3 linked regions of the Homo sapiens genome follow. The protein of the gene in region 1 purifies or fractionates together with the protein of each later gene. This does not show direct contact. Each region holds a gene or a part of one and is shown on either strand. Other genes may lie near its edges.

Region 1 (3,749 bases):
TGTACTGAGACGTCGTGGTGGAGAGTGAGGATTCCTCGAACCGGTCTAGGAGCGGGAGCAGCTTGGTGAAGTCAGGGTATAACTGGGTGTCTGGCGACAAGTTGGAGGCATAGGGGCTCTGAGGCCACAAGGCGCCTGGGGCTGGGGTTGGGAGTGATCCTGGGCCTGGCATCAGGGTTCGGCCTAGGACTGGGTCTGGGATTGGGCCTGGGCAAGAGATGGGGGCTGGTATTGGACCGGGGATCGAGACTGACAGTGGGCCTGACATTGGGCCTAAATTCGGGGCTGGGCCTGGGACTGGGCCTGGGATCTGGGCTGGGCCTGGGATAGGGGCTGGGATTGGGCCAGGGCCTGGAGCCGGGACAGCCTTGAGGCCCTCCTGTGTTCCACACTCAGGGCCACCCCAGGTCCGGGGGAGGCTGTAGATCTTCGGTTCTGCTGCTGGGAGGACTCCCCAGGGGCCCGGCTGAGGGGAGATCCAGGAACCCCTGCCCTGCGGGAACTCAGGACCCCCAGGGAAGGAGGCAGCGGCTACAGGGACTAGGGGCGCAGCGCGGGCTCCTCGGCCTCTCTGCCCAGGGACGCGCTGGGGCTGCTGCTGGAGCCGCCGCTCCCGAGCTAGTTTGGCGCGGCGATTCTTGAACCACACCTGGGGGGCAGAGGGGACAGGGAGAAGGTGTGAAGGAGGGACTCGCGCGGCCCGGGTGAGCCGCTCGGGGGCGGCGCCGGCCTCAAAACTCTCCCGGTGTTCACCCCCACCCCGCACCCACCATATGAGGGCCCCCGGCTCCCAGGCCTGGAGAAGGGAGGGAAGAGGGAGGGGAAAGTAGGGGGAGGAGGGTGGGGTGGGAGGGGAGGAGCCGGGTCTGCCGCCCAGGTGCCCGGGGGGCCAGGGAGGGTTCCAGGGGAGGGACCGCGGGTTCTCACGGGTGCCTGAGGTCCGGGCACCGGGAGACCCCGTGGGGGACAGCCTGGGCCGATCATGTGGGCGAGTTTGGGCTAGCATAGAGTTGGAACAGGACTCAGGATGCAGCCCGGGTCTACACTGGCGGGACCCCTTGCGTGGCAGGGCGGGAGGTGGTCGGGCGGGCCAGGCCCCGGTGAGTGACAGCGGTGGGGAGGCTCCTTGGGGTGACTGGGGCGGGCGGGGTGGGGGTGGGGGTCAGACCTGCAGCTGTTGCTCCCTGAGGCTGAGCATCTCCGCCAGATTCAGTCGCTGGTCGTAGTTCGGGTACTGGTCCTTCTGAAAGTAAAATTCTAGCACTTTCTGCTGGCTTTCAGTGTAGACCGTGCGCTCCTGCCGCTGTCTCCTTGGAGGGTCCAGGGCCAGGGGAGGGCCTGGGGGTGGGAGGGAAACAGGTCACAGAAACCCCCAGGCAGCCCCCAGCCCCCCTAGGGACCCCGTCCCCTGCGCCAGGCCAGGAGCCCAGGCAGTGTGGGCTGGGGCGGCACCGCGGATAGCAGCCTGGTATCCAGACCAGACCTTGCACCTCTCTGGGCCTCAGGGTCCACATCTAGGAAATGGGCGCGATAACAGCTCCTGGGAAGGCAGGCAGCGTAGGCGCCTCACCTCGGAGCAGACGGGGCTGCCTCAGGCCTGCTCAGCCCTCCCCAGCTGCCCCGTCCCCTCCCATCCAAGGGTTATAGGGACCCTGACACTTGCAGGGGAGCCGCCACCTGCCCAGTCCTCTGCTCCACTCAACTGCATGGTTTAATTTCTTTCCTTCTTTCTTTTTCTTGGAGGGGATCTCGCTCTGTCACCCAGGCTGGAGTGCAGTGATGTGATCACGGCTCAAGTCAGCCTCCACTTCCTGGGCTCAAGGAACCCCCCGCCTTAGTCTCCCGAGTAGCTGGGACCACAGGTGTGCACCACGACCCCTGGGTAATTTTTGTATTTTTGCTAAAGACGGGTCTCCACTATGTTGGCTCGGCTGGTTTCAGAGTCCCGGGCTCAAGTGATCCTCCCACCTTGGCTTCCCAAAGAGCTGGGATCACAGGCGTGAGACTCTGCGCCCAGCTGCATGATTTTTCATTTCCCAGACACCACTAAGTTCTCCCCCGTCTGCAGGACAGGAAGCCGCCCGCACAGGCCCAGCCCTTCTCTGGCTGCCCAGATTTGCACTCTGCAGCCTCAGCCACAGGATCAGCCCAGGCCCCTCACACCTCTGTCCCTGCTCACCTTGGAGATGACCAGGGTCTTGCATCCTGAGTCCTGATCTGTTCCCAAACACAAGTGTGTACTGACAAGGGCTTGGCTCTTAAATCACTTCTCTGCTGTGCCCACCCTGGCCCACCCTGCCAGGACCCTCCGTTTCCCACCCTGCCCTGCAGTCCCGCCCCCTGGAGGAGTTGAATGGTGGATTAATCCCTCATCACTGATCAGGTACTGCCTGCTGAGCTGTGCTAGGAGCTGGGGAACCTCAGTGGACAACACAGCCTTGGTTTCACCCTCATGGGCCCTAGCCCAGGCGAGGTGGTATTCCACATGGGATCGGGGGAGTCAACATCATGACCTGTGGTTGGGGTCCCCATCTCAGGAGAGGCACCGCCAGCCAGCCCCCAGGAGTCATCCTTATTCCTTCCCAGGGCTGGGGCCCCACATGATCAATGCCAGCGAGTCTACCCACTCCTCCCGGCTCCCGGGCTGCCCGCCTTGTCCAGTCACCATCCCTCTCTCCTGGATGACCCCACAGCCTCCTCTTTGGTCCTTTGAGGCCACTCTGGCCCCTACTAGTCATTCTTGAAGTTTCCTGCTCCCCCAACCAGGAGGGGACACAGGTCTGATGGACATTTCCATGGACTGCTACTGATGTATGCAGGGGACCCATTACCTTGGTTCACACAAGTCAGGTCCCTCAGAGATGCATCTGCTGTGTCAGACCCCTGGCTGCCCTCATCTCCTCATAGCAGGACCCACATGGGTTCAGGGGTCAAGGAGATTGACAAGGCTCATGATCCAGGGAGCTAAAAATGACTCATGCAAGGCTGGGCGCGGTGACTCACGCCTGTAATCCTAGCACTTTGGGAGGCCGAGGCGGGCAGATCGCCTGAGGTCAGGAGTTTGAGACCAGCCTGGCTAACATGGCAGAACGCCGTCTCTACTAAAACTACAAAAAGAATAGCCGGGCCTGGTGGCAGGCACCTGTAATCCCAGCTACTTGGGAGGTTGAGACAAGAGAATCACTTGAACCTGAGAGGCAGAGGTTGCAGTGCAGCCTGGGTGACAGAGGGAGACTCCGGCCCCCTCCCAAAAAAAAAGAAAAAGAAATGACTCATGCAACCAATTTCAAAATTCAATAAAACGTAGACATTGTTACCACGGGCCTCGCTCATTGTTTTCACCTGCTACTTAGAGTTCTATTGTAGAAAGCAGCATCCCCAGCAATGATTCCTCATTGCACACATTGTCCGGCTTCATCTACAGGACATGCTGGGAACACAGTAGTGACCACAGAGATTTTGCACCGTGGCTATTTATTTGGCCAATAAAGACATAAGCAGATGAACAAGCTCACTGGTACTATTTTGTGAAGATAGACATTTAAATATAAGAAAGTTCTGCCGGGCGCAGTGGCTCACGCTTGTAATCCCAGCACTTTGGAAGGCCGAGGTGGGTGGATCACCTGAGGTAGGGAGTTCGAGACCAGCCTGACCAACATAGACAAACCCCATCTCTACTAAATATACAAAATTAGCTGGGCATGGTGGCACATGCCTGTAATCCCAGCTACTCGGGAGGCTGAGGCAGG
Region 2 (3,649 bases), on another chromosome or scaffold:
CTGGATTAAGGCGTGAGCCACTGCGCCCAGTCGTAATTTTTTTTATTTTTATGTTTTTATAGAGACCAGAGTCCCTCTGTGTTGCCCAGGCTGGAATGCAATGATGCAGTCATAGCTCACTGCAATTTCCAACTCCTAGGCTCAAGCAGTCCTCCTGCCTCAGCCTCCCAATTAACCAGGACTACAGATGCATGCCACCACACCCAGATGATGTTTTAATTTTTTGTAGAGAGGGGTCTCACTATGTTGCCCAGGCTGGTCTTGAACTCCTGGCCTCAAGCAATCCTCGCGCCTCAGCCTCCCAAAGCACAGGGATTCATATTAATGTTTTTTAAAAAGCACTTTTATATCCATAGCAGGTGTTTTTTCCATTTGACAGGAAAGGCCCAGACAAGTTAGCTTAATTTGTCTGGGGTTACTTGAGACCTCACTAGCAGAGCCAGGATTAGAACCCAGGTATCTCGATTCCTTGTCCGTGTTTCCTCCACTGTTTGGTTCCTATGAAATGAGTTATTGATGGTCTCTCTATTTTTTAGAGTAGGTCCAAAGTATACTCAGTTACTGAGTTTCTTTAACAAGGATTTTATAGGTTGAGTTAGAACTAGGAACTTGGAATCTCATATCTTGCTCTGCTCATGAGACTTAGAATGTCTTCCCTTCCCTCTTGGTATAATAGTTATGCTTCCCTCCCTCCTCTGATCTGAGTGTCACTTATAAGCTTTCCAGTCCCTGAGCGTGCTCTGAAAAAGTGAAACAATCTAAACATATTGGAAGGGGCAGCCTCTCCTATTTCAGTCGTTTTCCCAGAATGCTTGTTCTTACCTAGAAAACATCCACTGATGCATGGATGGATTTTCCTTTTCTCCCCCTGCCCCATCTTGTTCCCTGTGGGTGGGTGCAGAGGTGGGGGCGGGGGCTTTTTAACCAAAAGGGAGCAGAGTTGGATTATAAACAAGATCAGTAGAGGCCAAAATCCTACTCTGCCCCAGGTGTCTAGTACTAATTATCTGCTCTGGTGGTTCTACTGGGACCTTGGGCTTGAAGTATATCTGTCTTATCTGTACAACACCCAGTCGTTGTTCTGTGATTGTTGTAGGAGGCAGAGCCCCGGATGTGGACATATGTTTATCCTGCCAAGTACTCAGACATCAAGTCAGAGGATGAGCGGTGGAAGGAGGAGCGGGACCGCAAATTGAAGGAGGAAAGGAGTCGGAGTAAGGACTCTGTCCCCAAGGAAGATGGGAAGGAAAGCACAAGTAGTGACTGCAAGCTGCCCACGTCAGAGGAGTCTCGCCTTGGGAGCAAGGAGCCCCGGCCAAGTGTCCATGTGCCTGTGTCCTCCCCACTTACCCAGCACCAGTCCTACATCCCCTACATGCACGGCTATTCCTACAGTCAGTCCTACGACCCCAACCACCCCAGCTACCGGAGCATGCCTGCTGTGATGATGCAGAACTACCCAGGTACAGCACCAAGTGCCAGCACTATTCCATTCACTGGAAGGGGGAATGAAGCACAGATTTCACATCCAGAGTTTTCTTGCTCAGCCCCAAGGCATATTGAGGCTCGCTTAGATGACGGACCTTTTTTCACTGAGTCATTCTGTGAGGTGGCCACCATAACCCATAGTTCCTTGAATGACCCATAATGATAGTCTGTGTGACTACCTCTCTCTCCCTTGCTCCAGCTCAAGGATTGTCTCTGTAGTCAGTTTTCATTGCTAACTAAAGGTAAAACTCCTTCTCTGTCACTGCTGTCTCCCCTCAGCTGGAATTTGTAAACCATATACTCCACGTTTTGCAGTGTGCTAGGCACTGTGGGAGGTACAAAAGAAGTAGAGCCATTGAGTTCCTTCCACTCCCGGAGCTTACAGCTTAATCATAGTGGAGAGACACAAAGAACAAATAAAATGCAAACCATAACAATGCATGGATTCAGTTGCCAGATCATGTTCACCTGTCAAGTAAGAAGAGCCATCTGAAGTCAGACTGGGGGGAGGTCCTGCTAGATTCAGCTTGGAAAAGACAAGCTCTTTATAGTGTTTAAATGTTTTTTGTTTGTTTGTTTTTTGAGACGGAATTTCACTCTTGTTGCACAGGCTAGAGTGCAGTGGCGTGATCTCGGCTCACCACAGCCTCCACCTCCTGGGTTCAAACGATTCTCCTGCCTCAGCTTCCCAAGTAGCTAGGATTACAGGCATGTGCCACCACTCCTGGCTAATTTTGTATTTTTAGTAGAGACGGTGTTCTTCCGTGTTGGTCAGGCTGGTCTTGAACTCCCGACCTCAGGTGATCCGGCTGCCTTGGCCTCCCAAAGTGCTGAGATACAGGCATGAGCCACCGCTCCGGCCTTAAATGTTTTTTAACTTGTTAGAAGAAAATGCTCTTATTTAACTCTACTCGTTTTGTTGCCCAAAGAACCATGTGGGGTGCTTCTGGGGTGGAAGGGCACTGCTTTAGCCTCACTCCTTAGAGCCTCCAGCTTCCTACAGCAGCCTAAATAGTCTCAACATTCTGGTGACATTATTATAAAGCACACTCTAAATAGAAATAAGCTTTTCAAACAGAAATAGGAAATTTCTTACCCTTGAGGTGTTCCTTTATCCCTGTCACTCACACCCATCAATATAAAAATCATAGTTGCATTTGTTGAGTGCTCGCCCTGAGCCAGGCGCTGTCCTCTGAGATTTATAGACATTATCTTTTTTAATCCTCCCTATCACCTTAAGTAATAAGTATTGATATCTTCATTTTTGATGATGAAGAAACTGAAGCTCAAAACAGTTATTTATTTGCTCAAGGTTACCAAGCTAGTAAGTCTCAGAGTAAGGTTTTGAGCCCAAGGCTCTGACTCCAGATAAGTGTGATCTTTCCACTTTATCATATCACTTCTCCAAGATGAATCTGAGACCAGTTCAAAGAACAGTATCAGATCTATGGAAGTTGGAAGCAGGAAACAGGGCCATGTTCCTAATATCCCTTAGCTAATTTTTCCTGTAGAGCTCAGTAAAGAAAGGTCAAGCCAACAGTCTCAGCCAAAGACACTATGTTAGAAAATACCTCAGCCTGTGCCTAGGAAAGCTGATGCCCACCCAATCAAGCTCACTAAAGCAGAGTTTCCTCTACCTCTCCCATCTCTTTGACTGTTTGATTTCTCCTTCCACAGGTTCCTACCTGCCTTCCAGCTACTCTTTTTCCCCATATGGCAGCAAGGTCTCAGGTGGTGAAGATGCTGACAAGGCACGAGCCAGCCCCAGTGTGACTTGTAAATCCAGCTCAGAGTCCAAAGCCCTGGACATCTTGCAGCAGCATGCCAGTCACTACAAGAGCAAGTCTCCCACGGTAAGAAAAGTACAGTGATGCTGGCTGTTACCCAAAGACTAGTAAGGCCAGATCCAGGGTCTGGGAGAAGGTGGGCAAGTTCAGGTCCTGACCACAGTGCAGCTTGGCTGACTTGACACTGGCAGCCCCCAGGGCATCTTCTTTATTCTTAGGTATCTTGCACTTTTAGGGGTCATAAGGTGGCACCCTGGGCATCTCACTTGTGTGTGTGTGTGTGTGTGTGTGTGTGGTTGTATGCATATGTGTCTCACTATAGTGCTTTTGTGTCTCTGGTTTCCTTTCCAGATAAGTGATAAAACTTCTCAGGA
Region 3 (3,649 bases), on another chromosome or scaffold:
CTTTTTCTCCCCTTTTTTTTTAAAAAAAAAAAAAAAAAAGAGAGACACAAGGTTCTGCTCTGTCACCCAGGCTGGAGTACAGTGGCACCATCTTAGCTCACTGCTGGCTCAAACTCCTGGGCTCAAGAGATCCTCCCACCTTGGCCTCCTGTGTAGCTGGACTACAGGCACACTTGTCAACACACCTAGCTTGTCTGCCTGCTTTCCTTCCCTCTCTCCCCTCTCTCCCTCCTCTCTCCTCTCTCTTCTTTCTCTTTCTCTTTCTCTTTCTCTTTCTCTTTCTCTTTCCCTTTCCCTTTCCCTTTCCCTTTCCCTTTCTCTCTCTCTTTTTCTTTTGTGGAGACGGAGTCTCATTGTGTTGCCCAGCCTGGTCTCGAACTCCTGGCCTCAAACGATCCTCCTGCCTCGGCCTTCCAGAGTGCTGGGATTACAGACATAAGCCACTGCACCAAGCCTATCTAGTCTTCTAAATATGTGTGGATGGATAGATGGGGAAACTTTAGGTATTTTTTGAAATATTTTCATAGATTTAATAGTTCTGCCCTTAATTTTGAGGATAGCTACTTTAACAATAGGATTTGAATTACAGAAGATTATATTTTAATGATAATTTTAAAGGCTTAATGAACTCACTTTCTATATTAATCTTTTAACAGATCACAGACCAGTGAGAGTTGGTTTATGTTGATCCATGGTCATAGCTTTTAATTATTAATGATGATATATGTCTATCCATGTCTGATTTTAGAGATGAAAATATGTATATTGGAACTTAAAATTTGTAATGCTTCATCTGAAGTAGTTTATTCTACACTAATAATGGAGTCATTTTAGATAGCAAGGAAGAAAAATTTCTCTAAAGATGTTAAATACTGATTAGCTAAGTTGCAGGTACTTTTTGATAACTTTAGGACTTGGGTCAAATTATCTTATACAGTTAGATATTTATTTTTAGTGGCTTTTCTCTTTAATATTTTAAATTCTGTATATTCTGAGTTTGCTTAATATTAGATTTAAACTATTTTTCTTTCTTTTTAGGGGCTTCACAAAGGTCAGAGTTCACATTCGGCAGGTCCTAATGGTGAACGACCTCTCTCTTCCACTGGGCCTTCCCAGCATCTCCAGGCAGCTGGCTCTGGTATTCAGAATCAGAACGGACATCCCACCCTGCCTAGCAATTCAGTAACACAGGGGGCTGCTCTCAATCACCTCTCCTCTCACACTGCTACCTCAGGTGGACAACAAGGCATTACCTTAACCAAAGAGAGCAAGCCTTCAGGAAACATATTGACGGTGCCTGAAACAAGCAGGCACACTGGAGAGACACCTAACAGCACTGCCAGTGTCGAGGGACTTCCTAATCATGTCCATCAGATGACGGCAGATGCTGTTTGCAGTCCTAGCCATGGAGATTCTAAGTCACCAGGTTTACTAAGTTCAGACAATCCTCAGCTCTCTGCCTTGTTGATGGGAAAAGCCAATAACAATGTGGGTACTGGAACCTGTGACAAAGTCAATAACATCCACCCAGCTGTTCATACAAAGACTGATAACTCTGTTGCCTCTTCACCATCTTCAGCCATTTCAACAGCAACACCTTCTCCAAAATCCACTGAGCAGACAACCACAAACAGTGTTACCAGCCTTAACAGCCCTCACAGTGGGCTACACACAATTAATGGAGAAGGGATGGAAGAATCTCAGAGCCCCATGAAAACAGATCTGCTTCTGGTTAACCACAAACCTAGTCCACAGATCATACCATCAATGTCTGTGTCCATATACCCCAGCTCAGCAGAAGTTCTGAAGGCATGCAGGTTAGTGTGGGAAAGTTCATCAAAGTGAAAATGTTTGACTTACTGGCATGATCAGAATGCTGAAATTTGGACCGTTTAAGATATGGGAAGTAAGCAAAAGATGGTGTAGTCATTCATCTAAGAGTTTGACAGAAGCTTTATTTTGCTTAGATGTTGTAGTCAAATCAGATGTGAGAAGTATTCCTGTAAATTGCTTATTTTGAGTGGGTGTGTCTGATTGTGCTGTTACTGCCCTCTACTGGTTACTAGGTTGTCAGCTTCAGTGTGATTGACTTCGCTCTGGGGATTTAAACAAGAGAATGGGTTAAATCATATTTGGCCAAATACAGCAAGGCTGGAAAACCCTATGGGTTTTTTTTTTTTTTTTATCAGAGCCTATTAAATGTTAGGCTAGGAATGGACCCCATCACTTATCAAGGCTAGTCTTTGCTTACAATTGAGAAAACTGGACTGTTTGAATCTAGAAGAGGTTATAAAGCAGGCAGAAGAGGAAGGAAGAGGTCAGGGGCAATGGGCAGTGGAGAGACATGACAGACTGTCAGCCATTCTGGAAGGAGCCAGACATATTCTGCTAGTCTAGGAAGGGCAGGGCCTCAGAAATTTATGAAGAAATGAACCTCCTCTGTCCCACAAAAGAAGAATCAAAGGATCAGGCAGCATCATCTTTCTCTGATATTTGGAGGACATATAGATTCTTACTGGCCTTTTCATTGTATATGACACATATATAATTTTTCTCATTTACTTGTAGTTGTTGTCCTCTATAAGTGACTAAATCTTGAATGAAATTTAGTTAACATAACTGGAACAAACAAATAATTCTGTAATATTTTCTGATACATTAAATGTTAAGTTTGAGCAGACATATAGTAGATTTTAAAAAGATCTTTTTTTGGTTGTAGATTGTCATGATATATAGAAAATAACCATTCTATAAATAGAAATTATAAACATTAGTTCTAGTTTGGCTACATTGACCATTTAATATAGCTTTTACATTTTAAAGTTCAAAACAATTCTTATTTATAGCCATATAAACCTCTTCCTGCAGTTGCTAGTACTTATATGTCTTATTTATTGTTATGTAAAAGTGTGATTATCTTTTCTGTTGTTCAGATTATTTTATTAGAAGGTATCCTGGGTCTACCGTTAAATGTTTGTCACTGACGAATGATTGAGGTGAAATTAAATTTTATTTATATATAAGTTTGCTGCTTGGGAGGGATGTGGGGTAGGAGCAATGGAGTATGGAGAAGAAATTTCAATTAATTTAAATTTATCGCTTTAATTGTGACACTAGAACTTTACTATAAATTACACTATAGTCATTTTTCTTTAAAGAGTTTGAGTGTTAAAAATACCTTTTGGTCTGTGTTTTCTTTTCTTTTCTTGTCTTTTCTTGTCTTTTCTTGTCTTTTCTTGTCTTTTTTTAAGACAGTTTCGCTCTTGTTGCCCAGGCTGGAGTGCAATGGCGCGATTTCAACTTACCGCACGCTCTGCCTCCCAGGTTCAAGCGATTCTCCTGCCTCAAGCCTCCCAAGTAGCTGGGTGGGATTACAGGCATGCAGCACCACACCTGGCTAATTTTGTATTTTTTAGTAGAGACGGGGTTTCTCCATGTTGGTCAGGCTGGTCTTGAACTCCCAACCTCAAGTGTTCCACCTGCCTCTGCCTCCCAAAGTGCTGGGATTACAGGCGTGAGCCACTGTGCCCAGCTGGTCTTTGTTTCATTTTCTATTAGTTTCTATTTCTGTTAGTTTCTATTTCATTATTTCCTGTCAAATTTTAACTATTTAGTTGTTATTCTGACATAGACTAGGGCAGAAATTACA

What was found.
Region 2: the proteins of TPRX2 (region 1) and ZNF609 purify together in Homo sapiens (affinity purification with mass spectrometry, with the first as the bait; one large-scale study listed by BioGRID). This does not show direct contact.
Region 3: the proteins of TPRX2 (region 1) and KDM6A purify together in Homo sapiens (affinity purification with mass spectrometry, with the first as the bait; one large-scale study listed by BioGRID). This does not show direct contact.

Annotation. Positions count from the first base shown.
Region 1 is NC_000019.10:47,857,702-47,861,450, reverse strand, and holds the start of TPRX2 (tetrapeptide repeat homeobox protein 2), read right to left. Parts: upstream 2,217-3,749; 5' UTR 2,205-2,216; coding exon 2,180-2,204; intron 1,339-2,179; coding exon 1,169-1,338; intron 650-1,168; coding exon 1-649. UniProt on the Homo sapiens protein: Transcription factor expressed after fertilization required for zygotic genome activation (ZGA), a critical event in early embryonic development during which the developmental control passes from maternally provided mRNAs to the expression of the zygotic genome after fertilization.
Region 2 is NC_000015.10:64,677,020-64,680,668, forward strand, and holds part of ZNF609 (zinc finger protein 609), read left to right. Parts: intron 1-1,096; coding exon 1,097-1,463; intron 1,464-3,165; coding exon 3,166-3,341; intron 3,342-3,626; coding exon 3,627-3,649. UniProt on the Homo sapiens protein: Transcription factor, which activates RAG1, and possibly RAG2, transcription. Through the regulation of RAG1/2 expression, may regulate thymocyte maturation.
Region 3 is NC_000023.11:45,068,541-45,072,189, forward strand, and holds part of KDM6A (lysine-specific demethylase 6A), read left to right. Parts: intron 1-1,038; coding exon 1,039-1,817; intron 1,818-3,649. UniProt on the Homo sapiens protein: Histone demethylase that specifically demethylates 'Lys-27' of histone H3, thereby playing a central role in histone code. Demethylates trimethylated and dimethylated but not monomethylated H3 'Lys-27'.